Linked DNA regions of Homo sapiens: region 2 is linked to region 1. The links come from fine-mapping of genetic effects on gene expression. A gene starts in region 1. The other region holds a variant in brackets. All regions are shown on one strand. Distances are from middle to middle. Region 1 holds the start of UAP1 (UDP-N-acetylglucosamine pyrophosphorylase 1). Region 2 has its middle 22 kb from the start of UAP1-DT.

What was found. PIP is the estimated chance that this variant, and not a neighbour inherited with it, causes the effect.
Region 2: its variant is the best candidate, but not a certain one, in a credible set for the expression of UAP1 in T cells (TOPMed, PIP 0.71).

Annotation. Positions count from the first base shown.
Region 1 is chr1:162,559,328-162,564,827 of GRCh38, forward strand. UAP1 (UDP-N-acetylglucosamine pyrophosphorylase 1) reads left to right here and starts at 2,395. Exons shown (of 11, transcript NM_001324116.5): 1 at 2,395-2,450. It overlaps UAP1-DT (UAP1 divergent transcript), which reads right to left and starts at 2,026. Exons shown (of 3, transcript XR_426859.4): 1 at 1,911-2,026; 2 at 1,148-1,325. RefSeq lists a silencer at 1,984-2,883.
Region 2 is chr1:162,536,587-162,541,819 of GRCh38, forward strand. It overlaps the pseudogene UQCRBP2. Among named protein-coding and RNA genes, the nearest start is that of UAP1-DT, 22 kb to the right of the region's middle. The variant T/A (reference allele first, on the strand shown) is at 3,134.

The DNA of each region.
Region 1 (5,500 bases):
TAAACCTCTTTTCTTTATAAATTACCCAGTCTTGGGTATCTCTTGATAGCAGTGTGAAAACGGACTAATACACTAACCAAAATTTTTCTGTGGTTTGTTAGTCTTATTGTTGACTCTCAAGGGCTTTCCAGGTATTCTCTCTTGTCATTTGCAAGTCGAAGTAGTTTTATGACTTTTTAAAATTCTTAAAAAATAATTTTTTAATTCTTATATATTTTTTCTAATTTATAAGCCTCTTAGGATTTCTGTTGTCTAACTTCATTAGCTGATACCTTTGGTGTAATGTCAAAAAATCATAGGTAGTGTGAACATCGTTGCCTTGTTTTCTTCAATCAGCTCTTAAAAGACCATGTATATAAAAAGTATTTCGAAGGACAGAAATAACTCTAGTGTTAGACATTTCTGGACATTTAGCTGGCAAGATGAGATTATGGCCCCTCTTATGCCTAGTAACCAGAATAACAAACAAATGAAACTTCAGCAAAAAAGGGTAAAAGTACAAATGTGATTTTATAGTAGTTCATTAAAAACATTGAGCTGGACCTCAGTTCTATCTTTTTTCTTTAAAGGATTGCTAACTAATAATTTTGCTCTTTACTCAGTCATTCATCTATGACTTATAGAATGCCTATAATATTCCAGACATTATCTTAGGTTCTTTCTCATTTTTTACTATACCCATGTGAAATAGGTATTAGCTTCATTTCATAAAAGGACATTGGAGTTTGGAGTGGTTAAATGACTTACCCAAAGTCACACAGTTAGTAAGCGTAGACTGATTTTGAATCTGGGTCTCCTAGTTTGAATTAATAAGTGCTCAATAATAAATAATAACTAAAGGTTATTTAGTGTTTACTGTTTTACATACTTCATTTATATCGATTGGTTTAATACAACCACCAAATGGCATTTTCATCTTTATTGTCTGTTTTTTATAGATGAGAAAACTGATAGCACAAGTAGCTTGCCAAAGATCACAAGCAATAAAGCTGAAATTGTCTTCAGATCCCATGATTAAGAAACCAATCACTACACTATAAACCAATCACTACACTATTCTTCTTTCAAAGAAACGAAGGAAGTTCTAGGATCATGAGAGATGGAGAGTATTCAATCTCCTGAATGTAAATCTACCAGCATTACTTACCAAGTTTAAGTTTTTCTGTTGTTACTTGAGGCAGTGGGTGATTATGCAATTGGTAAAGGGAATGAAAAGGCCTTTGCACCCAAGAAAGTAGAAGAAAGGCGCCTGAATCTCTTTATGATAGGTGGTATGTTAAATCTAGGTATTTTCGTATTTCAACATATTCCACTTCTTGCAAAAGCTGCAAAATGCAACACAACTTTAAATGTAAACATAGCTTCCAAGGGCACAGTGCTGAACATATAATAACCTGTGTGTGCACACCCACACTAGGTTATGTAACAGGACTGTAAACACTGGTCCTGGAATGGCCTGGGAGGTCATCTAGGTCCTCCACCATCTTTCTGCAGAGTACTGAGGCCTAGCGACGTTAAGTCTGCAAACTCACAAAGATGACCCCGGGCTTATACTACCTTAGGTTACCTACTACCTTTGCTTGCATTTCCTCTCTCCTTTCCTGTCTGTTTGTGCAAAAGAAAAAAGGCCTGGCTTCGCCTTCTTGGGAGCCAAAACACAACCAAACAGAGAGCGAGTTTGGAGCCCGGCCAGGCATCTTGTGAACTGCACACAAAATAACTAGCCCAAGGTCAGAGAGCGCGCCAGGCCCGCCCTGAAAGTTTCTCCGCAGGAAAATCCACCGCCCTTTCCCAACCACCCGCGTGGGTGGCTCGGAAATCCGCCACCCTGGGGACACAGCTCCCTGCCCATCTCTGTGGCCCGCTTGTGCCCCGTGCCGCTGGGCCGACTAAGAGCCTCGGGCTCGCACCTCCCAGTACAACCTAGGGACGTCAGGGGTCCTGGGACCCACGAGCCGCTCTCTGCCGGCCGGCTCCTGGCCCCTCCTAGCAGACCCAACCGACATCCTTCACCCTCAGTTAGTGCGCAGGAGGGACCGGGACGCCAGCCGACTGCGCTCCAGAACTATTCCCATTGGGCCAGAGAATGAGTGACGCACTAGGCCCCGCCCCGGCCCGGTGGGTTACTCCTTTCATGCCCGGCCCCCATCCCTAGCCCCGCCCCGGCGCCCCGGGCCGCGGCCGCCTCCGCGTCCGCGTCGTCGTCTGTGCTCCCGGCGCTGACGTGTCTGGGCGGTCGGCTTCCACTCCTTCAGGCGTCGGCAGCCACTAGTCGTGGCGAGAGGGGCGGGGTGGCCGGGGCTGGCGCTCCACTTGGCCCCCGCTCCCGGCCCGCCCCGCCGCCGCGGCCCCCCGGATGAGGGTATATATTCGGAGCGAGCGCGGGACGCCGATGAGTGGCCGCGCGGAAGGAGCTGGAGACGGTCGTAGCTGCGGTCGCGCCGAGAAAGGTGAGGGGCTCCCAGCCCAGCGAGGAGACGGCGGGGCTCGGGACCCGGGCGGGCGGAGGGCCTGGCCCCACCGCACACACGGCCACGCGCTCAGACGTGGACACGCGTCGCACGAACGTGCACAGCGCGGGCAGCCGAGCACACGCCGAGGAGCCTCCCGCTCGCCCGCAGACACACACCCCAGCCCGTGCGCCCCGCAGTCGCACCCCATCCTCCGCCACCCCGCGAGAGGGTGTGTGGGCTGGGCAGCCGGGTGGATGGCGGGGCCAGGGATGGAATGAGCGCGCCCCAGATGGACTGGGGGCGTTGTGGGAGGAGGTCTGGGCCAGTGTCTGAGTCCGAGGGGGTCGTGTAGGCGTGTGGGGTTGGGAGTGGGGCCTCTCCCGGGTGGGCAGTAGAGACCTCGAGGCTCTCAGGCTAGGGCCTTGTGGACAGTTATACCAAGTGTGGGGGCCTGTAGTGGGACAGGAGATCGTTGGCACTGTCAGGTGGAAGCGAGTTGGTGTGTCTTGAATATATGAGGAAAAGATTTGAGAGGTCTGACAAAGACAGGGGATACATTTGGAGGACAGGACAGTGGGACAAAACCTGTTTGCTTGCCACTTTTTTCTTTCTTTTTTTTGGTTTGGTTTGCCATGATACTGGTAGTGAGAGAGAATTGAAATTTCTGGGTTTCCCCTCTCTTGGCCAAGCAGAAGGATGGTATTGGAGGGCTGAGCACACGTATGCTGAACATATGGCTGCTTGAACTTTGGCCTGTCGCTGTGCTACACTTACTTCTACATGGTTTATGAAATCTGAAATCAGGTAATAGGATTATGATCATATGTGTGTGTCATTTGGTATTGCAAAAGTTTAAGGACTTTTAGGTGAAATTCACTGGGTGTGGATCCAAGAGTTCGCCGGAAACTCAAGGCAGTTGTCTATTCCTTCACGGTTAGTCAGTTGGCTCACTTAGCTGGAGCAAAGAAAGACTTCATAGGCTGTGCTGCCAAGCATTTATAGGATTCAGTTGGTGGTTATGTCTCAACTCTGATACTGTTTTTCAAAAGCTTTAAGAGGTTTACTTATTCATTTCGAGGGCATACGTATACCAGCAGAGATAGGGGCTGGGTGGGGGAAGCCAGAAAAGGAGGGAGAAATACTGGATTTCTTTAATACTGGTATTTAAATTCTAATAAAAATATATTTGATAATGGTAGATTATTACCAAATTTTTCATATATTTTGATGCAGATGGATTAGGCTGTGGGCATGTACCAAGTTTTGTCATAATTTCTCGAGCAGATTTTCAACTTTTTCAGATTTCGGTTGTCAAAATAAAAATCCATATCTTTTAACTCTTCTGTTAATTGCTGCTTACCATTACACGTGCCTCTAAACATCGTTAATGGGAAACATGCTACTATTTTTGTGGCATGAAGGTGCTTATATCTGCCTCAAATAAATATAATAGATGAATTGTGCTTGTCCAAAACTCAAGTATGGTCGTTACATTATGAACATTATACAACATGTAGATGAACACATGTTACCAGTGGTTTACGCCCAGATATCAAAGTTTAACCTATGAGGTACCCTTTTTTTTTTTATTTTTATTTTTTGAGACGGAGAGTCTCACTCTGTCGCCAGGCTGGAGTTCAGTGGCGTGATGTCGGCTTACTACAACCTCCGCCTCCCCGGTTCAGGCGATTCTCCTGCCTCAGCCTCCTGAGTAGCTGGGACTACAGGCGCGTGCCACCATGCCCAGCTAATTTTTGTATTTTTAGTGGAGATGGGGTTTCACCATGTTGGCCAGAATGGTCTCCATCTCTTGACCTCATGATCCGCCCGCCTCGGCCTCCCAAAGTACTGGAATTACAGGCGTGAGCCACCGCGCCCGGCCCTATGAGGTATCTTATTTGCATGGATTCATTTTCCCAAGTGTCTGAAGGTGGAGGAGTATCTAATGATCTTTTAGGAAAAGTTTGGTTTATATCTTAAAATGTTATAGTAATATGTTTGTGTATGCCTTTTATCAGACAGAGCACTCTTTACTCTTGACTATCTTGAAGGCATGTGAGAAAGGTTGGTTGTCTTATATTCATGAGGAAATCTATGCACAGGGAGGTAAAATGATTGCATAGAATCAAATGATAGAGAAGGACCAAGAACAGGGACTTCCTATTCTTTGGTTATCTGGTTCCTTGCTGATCTTCCTACTACAATGTACTCCCTTAAATCAGAGGCAAAGCAGCAGCATAAATAAGGTCTTGGGAAAGACTACATTCCTTGGAAAATAATTTAATATAAATCTGTTCCTCTCAAGTGTCTTTTTTAATGTGATTTTTTAAAATTAAAAAATAATAGCATCATGACTCTTGAAACCTATATAAATCAATAGGAATGCCTTTTAATACCATAATGAACATTGAAAGCTGAGTGTTGTTATTACCACCTCAGGGAACACACAGATGTAGGTTCTCTAGACCTGAGCTTGTAAATGGAGTTTGATGTTTAATGATCCTGGTGAGGTAGATACTATTATTAATCTCATTTTACAGATAAGGTAACCGAGGCATGGGGAAATTAAGTGGCTCAGCTTAGCCTAGAATTGTGCTCTGAACTACCATGTGTATTACTTTTCACTGTTCTTATAGGAAGAGAAGATAAGTGTCTTTAGAACCTACTTTTAACCTCTGTCTCTCACATCGAAGCAATTATAATGCAGTGATGATTCTTTACAGTGACCCTCAAATTTATTCCTTTCACTCTCATTTTCTCTGCCACTAATCTGGTTCAGACCTTTGGTATTTCATACCTGCAGTTGTCTTTTAACTTCTTTTCCTGCTTCTAGTTGTCCCTCCTTACAATCTATTGTATCCATTGCTCCTTTCTCTCATCTCTTTAAAGCATGGTAACACTGCCCTGTTTGAGAATCTACTGTTCGCTTTCTATTACTTATTCTCTGAAGTCTAAATTCTTTTGGTTAGTTTTCAGGCTTTTCATGATCTAGCCCTACCCCAGGCCATTTTATATCATTTGTCATACGTTAACCTTCTTACTGCTTT
Region 2 (5,233 bases), 23 kb before region 1:
GCACATTCATCAAAGGCCTAAGCATCTGACTTTGCATTATAGCCAAGAAAGAGAATTTGGAGGTTGGGTCTGATGATAAATAACATATGCAGCTATGGCCCCTGAACTAGGCTGCCTGAAAGTGGTGTTGTGAGTCACTTTTATGGTTTTGGCAAACTGAAATTCTACCATTCAAAATGGCTTCCACCTACTTGTTCATGTGTCTGTTCATGTACATGACACAATTGTTTTCTTTGTTCCCAAAGAAACAGGCAAGGGAAATCAGCTAATTGGCTAACCCTTAAGCAGTAGGGAAGATATGGCAAGGGCTGGTTATGTTGCTACATTGGTTTGTATCACAAGTGGATATAGAGAGTCTGGGGTTAAGGAACAGAAGGTTCCATTTTAATGCCATATTTCGGCCAGGTGCGGTGGCTCACACCTGTAATGCCAGCACTTTGGGAGGCTGAGGCAGGTGGATCACGAGGTCAGCAGTTCAAGACCAACCTGGCCAACCTGGTGAAACCCCATCTCTACTAAAAATACAAAAATTAGCTGGGCGTGGTGGGTGCGCACCTGTAATCCCAGCTACTCGGGAGGCTGAGGCAGAAGAATCGCTTGAACCCAGGAGGCGGAGGTTGCAGTGAGCCGAGACTGTTACTGCACTCCAGCCTAGTGACAGAGCAAGACTCCGACTCCAAAAAAAAAAAAAACACCATATTTCTCCATTATCTTCATTGACAGAGCATCAGAACCAGTTGCCTGCTGACAAAGGCCAAGTTTAATTAGGGTAAAAGAGGTGAGATGCCAAATTTGTGTGTGTGAGAGAGAGAGAGAGAGAAAGAGAGAGAGAGAGAGAGAGAGAGGGAGAGAGAGAATTAGAGATTTCAGGACCAGGCAAAGGAGGCAGCTTGGAAATGAAAATAGAAAGGCAAGTTGGAGTGTTCCAGGGACTTATATGACTCTCCCTTGCACTCTCCAAGTTGGAGAGACTTCCTCACACAGTAACGATATGACCTTAGTAAGCTGCTTAAACTTTATAAGACTTGGTTTCCTCTTTTGTAACATAGAGATAATAATCATATTTACATTATAAAATTGCTGTGAAGACTAAATGAGCTTATTCACATGAAACACCTGTGAGGTGTCTTTCCCTCCCTTTTGTTCTCATCGTCATCCAAATTTCTCTTCTTATGTTGGGCTGCAAGTTGAGCATTTCAAAACATCTTCCCTTCAATGTTATGTCCATTTTTCTCATCATTTGGTGTTAGTGCCTAACTCATCCTGACCATTTTTGATGTAAGGAACCTCCCTCATAGCAGGATTTTTTTTTTTAGCATGCCCATACTTTTTGTTTCTAACAATTTTACATTTTGGAAAACTCATTTTTACTTGCAACTGTGGAAAAATATGTCATCTACAGTGGATCCAGAAACATAGTTATGAATGCTTTTTGCTTTTTTTCTATTATTACCATTATTATTTTTTTCATTAGGTGGTCAGGCACGGTGGCTTACATCTGTAATGCCTGCACTTTGGAGGCCGAGGTGGGTGGATCACTTGAGGTCAGGAGTTTGAGAGCAGTCTGGGCAACATGGTGAAACCCCATCTCTACTAAAAATACAAAAAATCAGCTGGGCTTGGTGGTGCACACTTGTAATCCCAGCTACTCGGGAAGCTGAGGCAGGAGAATTGTTTGAACCCAGGAGGCAGAGGTTGCAGGAAGCTGAGATCGTGCCACTGTACTCCAGCCTGGGTGACAGAGTGACACTTTGTCTCAAAAAAAAAAAAATTAGGTTATTAAGCTTGTCAAGGAATAATTAAATATAGACTATATTCTCTACCCTTTGATATTGTGGAGGAAAAATAATACTGCCACCATCAATATTTTTATTTCATATAAATATTATTATATATAATTTTTAACCTCCTTAATACAACTTTGCTTTCATATTTAAATGAAAATGGGGGGGTGGATTTTTGTCTGAGATTTTAACAATATCTTTTCCTTCCACAGATAACAAGATCTTAATTTCGCTTGTAGTTTATAGCTGTATGAATAGGTAAAAGGGGATTCTTACTCGGATGCAAAACTCAGTAAGTTGACTAATTAATTCATAAGGAATATTTTACTGTTAACATAGACGTGGGCTTATATGGGCCAATTGTTTCTTAATCTGTTTGTTTAATATGTCAGAAATAAGGTTTTGTGGCCGAATTCAAGCAGCCTATCCCCTGTGTCACCAGAATTTCAAGACTTAAATCTCTCTTTAATTATGCTTTTCACTACTGGCTTCAACAAAGCTGAATAATTTTGTGTATGTGCCTCACATACACATGCCCCATATAATAGGTAGACTACATTTCTTAGATAAAATACATACTTAACTCATTGCTCATGATATTTCTTTGAATTCCAGGAACATGACCAAAGACTAATTTTCTAGGTTGTACAGGAAAACAAAAACCACACATACAGGCTAATAATGACTGATCTCAGAGCATATGAATTGAATGACTCTGATTCTCAAACTTTCAGTTGCCTGAATTGAGAGGCCTTTTCTTATTCTTGCATCACTTCATATTAAGCCCTTCTGAAGTTCCTTCCTAACTTGAAGCAGCACCCTCTTTATGGAAAAATACAGTTCTCAATGAAGGTAAGTATGGCAACTATGATCTCTGTTAGAACAGCCCAACAAATGCTCAAAGCTCACGTACAGGAGAGGGCAGGTTTGCCTGACCACACTGGGTGAGCAGCAGAATTAAAAGCCAAGCCTGAACCAGGGGTGGTGACTCATGCCTGCAATCCCAGCACTTTGGGAGGCTGAGACAAGTGGATCCTTTGAGGTCAGGAGTTCAAGACCAGCCTGGGCAACATGAGGAAACTCTGTCTCTACTAAAAATACAAAAATTAGCTGGGCGTTGTGGCAGGTGCCTGTAATCCCAGCTACTCGGGAGGCTGAGGCAGGAGAATCGCTTGAACCCGGGAGGTGGAGGTTGCAGTGAACATAGATTTCGGCACTGATCTCCAGTCTGGGTGACAGAGCCCGATTCCATCTCAAAAAAAAAAAAAAAAAAAAAAAATGTCCAGCCTGAGCCTGCGGGATAACATACTTTTCTTTCTTGCCTACAGAATTTGTATTACATATGATTA[T/A]TATATTTTTCTCATACAAAGACATTGTTCATAATAAACTGTACCAAATTTTAAAGAGAAATATTCTACATGAGATCATTAAGATCCTGACTATAAACTGTGAATAAGAAACCAGAAAACACCAGTGGCAGTGGCTAACACCTGTAATCCCACCACTTTGGGGGGCCGAGGTGGGCGGATCACCTGAGGTTGAGAGTTCGAGACCAGCCTGACCAACATGGAGAAACCCCGTCTCTACTAAAAATACAAAATTAGCTGGGCATGGTGGTGCATGCTGGTAATCCCAGCTACTTGGGAGGCTGAGGCAGGAGAATCACTTGAACCGGGGAGGCAGAGGATGCAGTGAGCCGAGATTGCGCCATTGCACTCCAGCCTGGGCAACAAGAGTGAAACTCTGTCTCAAAAAAAAAAAAAAAAAAAAAAAGCAGAAAATCTTTGTCATTTTAAAATGGTTTCTGGGTGGTAGTCGCAAATTGCAAAAATACTACAGTTTTACAAGGTGCATTTTATAGCTCCAGAGAGAATTCATCTTTTGTTTGGGGAAGCAATTCAACAGGTCTTTGGGTGATGTAAAGACAGTACTCACAGACTAGTGTGTGGAAATAAGAAGGGGCCAAACCGCTCCGTATATTAAAGATTTTGTTCCTTGGGTACAGAGACAATCAAGTGATTACCTGATTTTCTGCTTGTGGGGAATCCAAAGACATGAAATTGGAATTACTTTATTTTTTTGAGATGGAGTCTTGCTCTGTCGTCCAGGCTGGAGTGCAGTGGCGCAATCTCGGCTCTCTGCAAGCTCCGCCTCTCGGGTTCACGCCATTCTCCTGCCTCAGCCTCGCGAGTAGCTGGGACTACAGGCGCCCGCCACCACGTCTGGCTAATTTTTTTTTTGTATTTTTAGTAGAGACGGGGTTTCACTGTGTTAGCCAGGATGGTCTCGATCTCCTGACCTCGTGATCCGCCCGCCTCGGCCTCCCAAAGTGCTGGGATTACAGGCGTGAGCCACCGCGCCCGGCCGTAATTGGAATTATTTTATCTGGATAATAAAATACAGTGATCTCAGGATGCCAAAAATAAAAACAAACATCAACCAACTTGGTAAAGTTGGGGTACGTATTGGATTCATTTGAGACAGTTTGTTGTTGTTGTTGTTGTTGTTTTTACTATAGGTATTTATTTAAAGGAAAACGTGCAGACTAAATACTTTTCTTTTCTTTTCTTTTTTTTTTTTTTTCTGAGACGGAGTCTCACTCTGTCACCCAGGCTGGAGTGCAGTGGTGCGATCTCGGCTCACTGCAACTTTCGCCTCCCAGGTTCAAGCGATTCTCCTACCTCAGTCTCCCGAGTAGCTGGGATTACAAGTGCCCGCCACCACGCCCAACTAATTTTTGTATTTTTTAAAGTAGAGATAGGGTTTCGCTATGTTGGCCAGGCTGATCTTGAACTCTTGACTTCAGGTGATCCACCCGCCTCGGCCTCCCAAAGTGCTGGGATTACAGGTGTGAGCCACTGCGCCCGGCCTAAATAATTATTAAATTGTGTTTTGGCGTTAACCAACATCTTCATAAAAATACTTTGAGGACAGCTGCATCCATAGATTTCAACTGCATGATTACTTCTTTGCCCATTCTTTTCTCTCTTTTCTCTCCCAAGTAACCGCTTTCAGATACGGTTCAAGGTAGAATTTATCCTGTCATATTTGGTCCACTGTTCTTTAGGCGAGATCTGCTGCCTCATAGTCAGGTCCAGCGCAATCGATGTGAAACATCCTGTTATTATAAAGGTTCACAGGAGGGCTTCTTATGGCTTCTCTTACTTCTTCATCCTTATATATGGTATCATCTGGCATTAACCCCAGTTTATGGAATCCTGCAGCATTATAATACACTTACCAAAAACCATCCAGCCACTGATGCTGCAACAGCCGGCCTGCCAGCCATTTTGACCCTGAGATAGTTTGGAACCCTGGTACAGGATCTACATGCACCTTAGACTGGTACTTCCCCAAGGATTGCGTCACGAGCAACTACCAAATGGATTTTCAGAGTCCAGACTGTTCAATTAATCTCATCCACACACTCCCCTCTTCCCTCAGTTCTC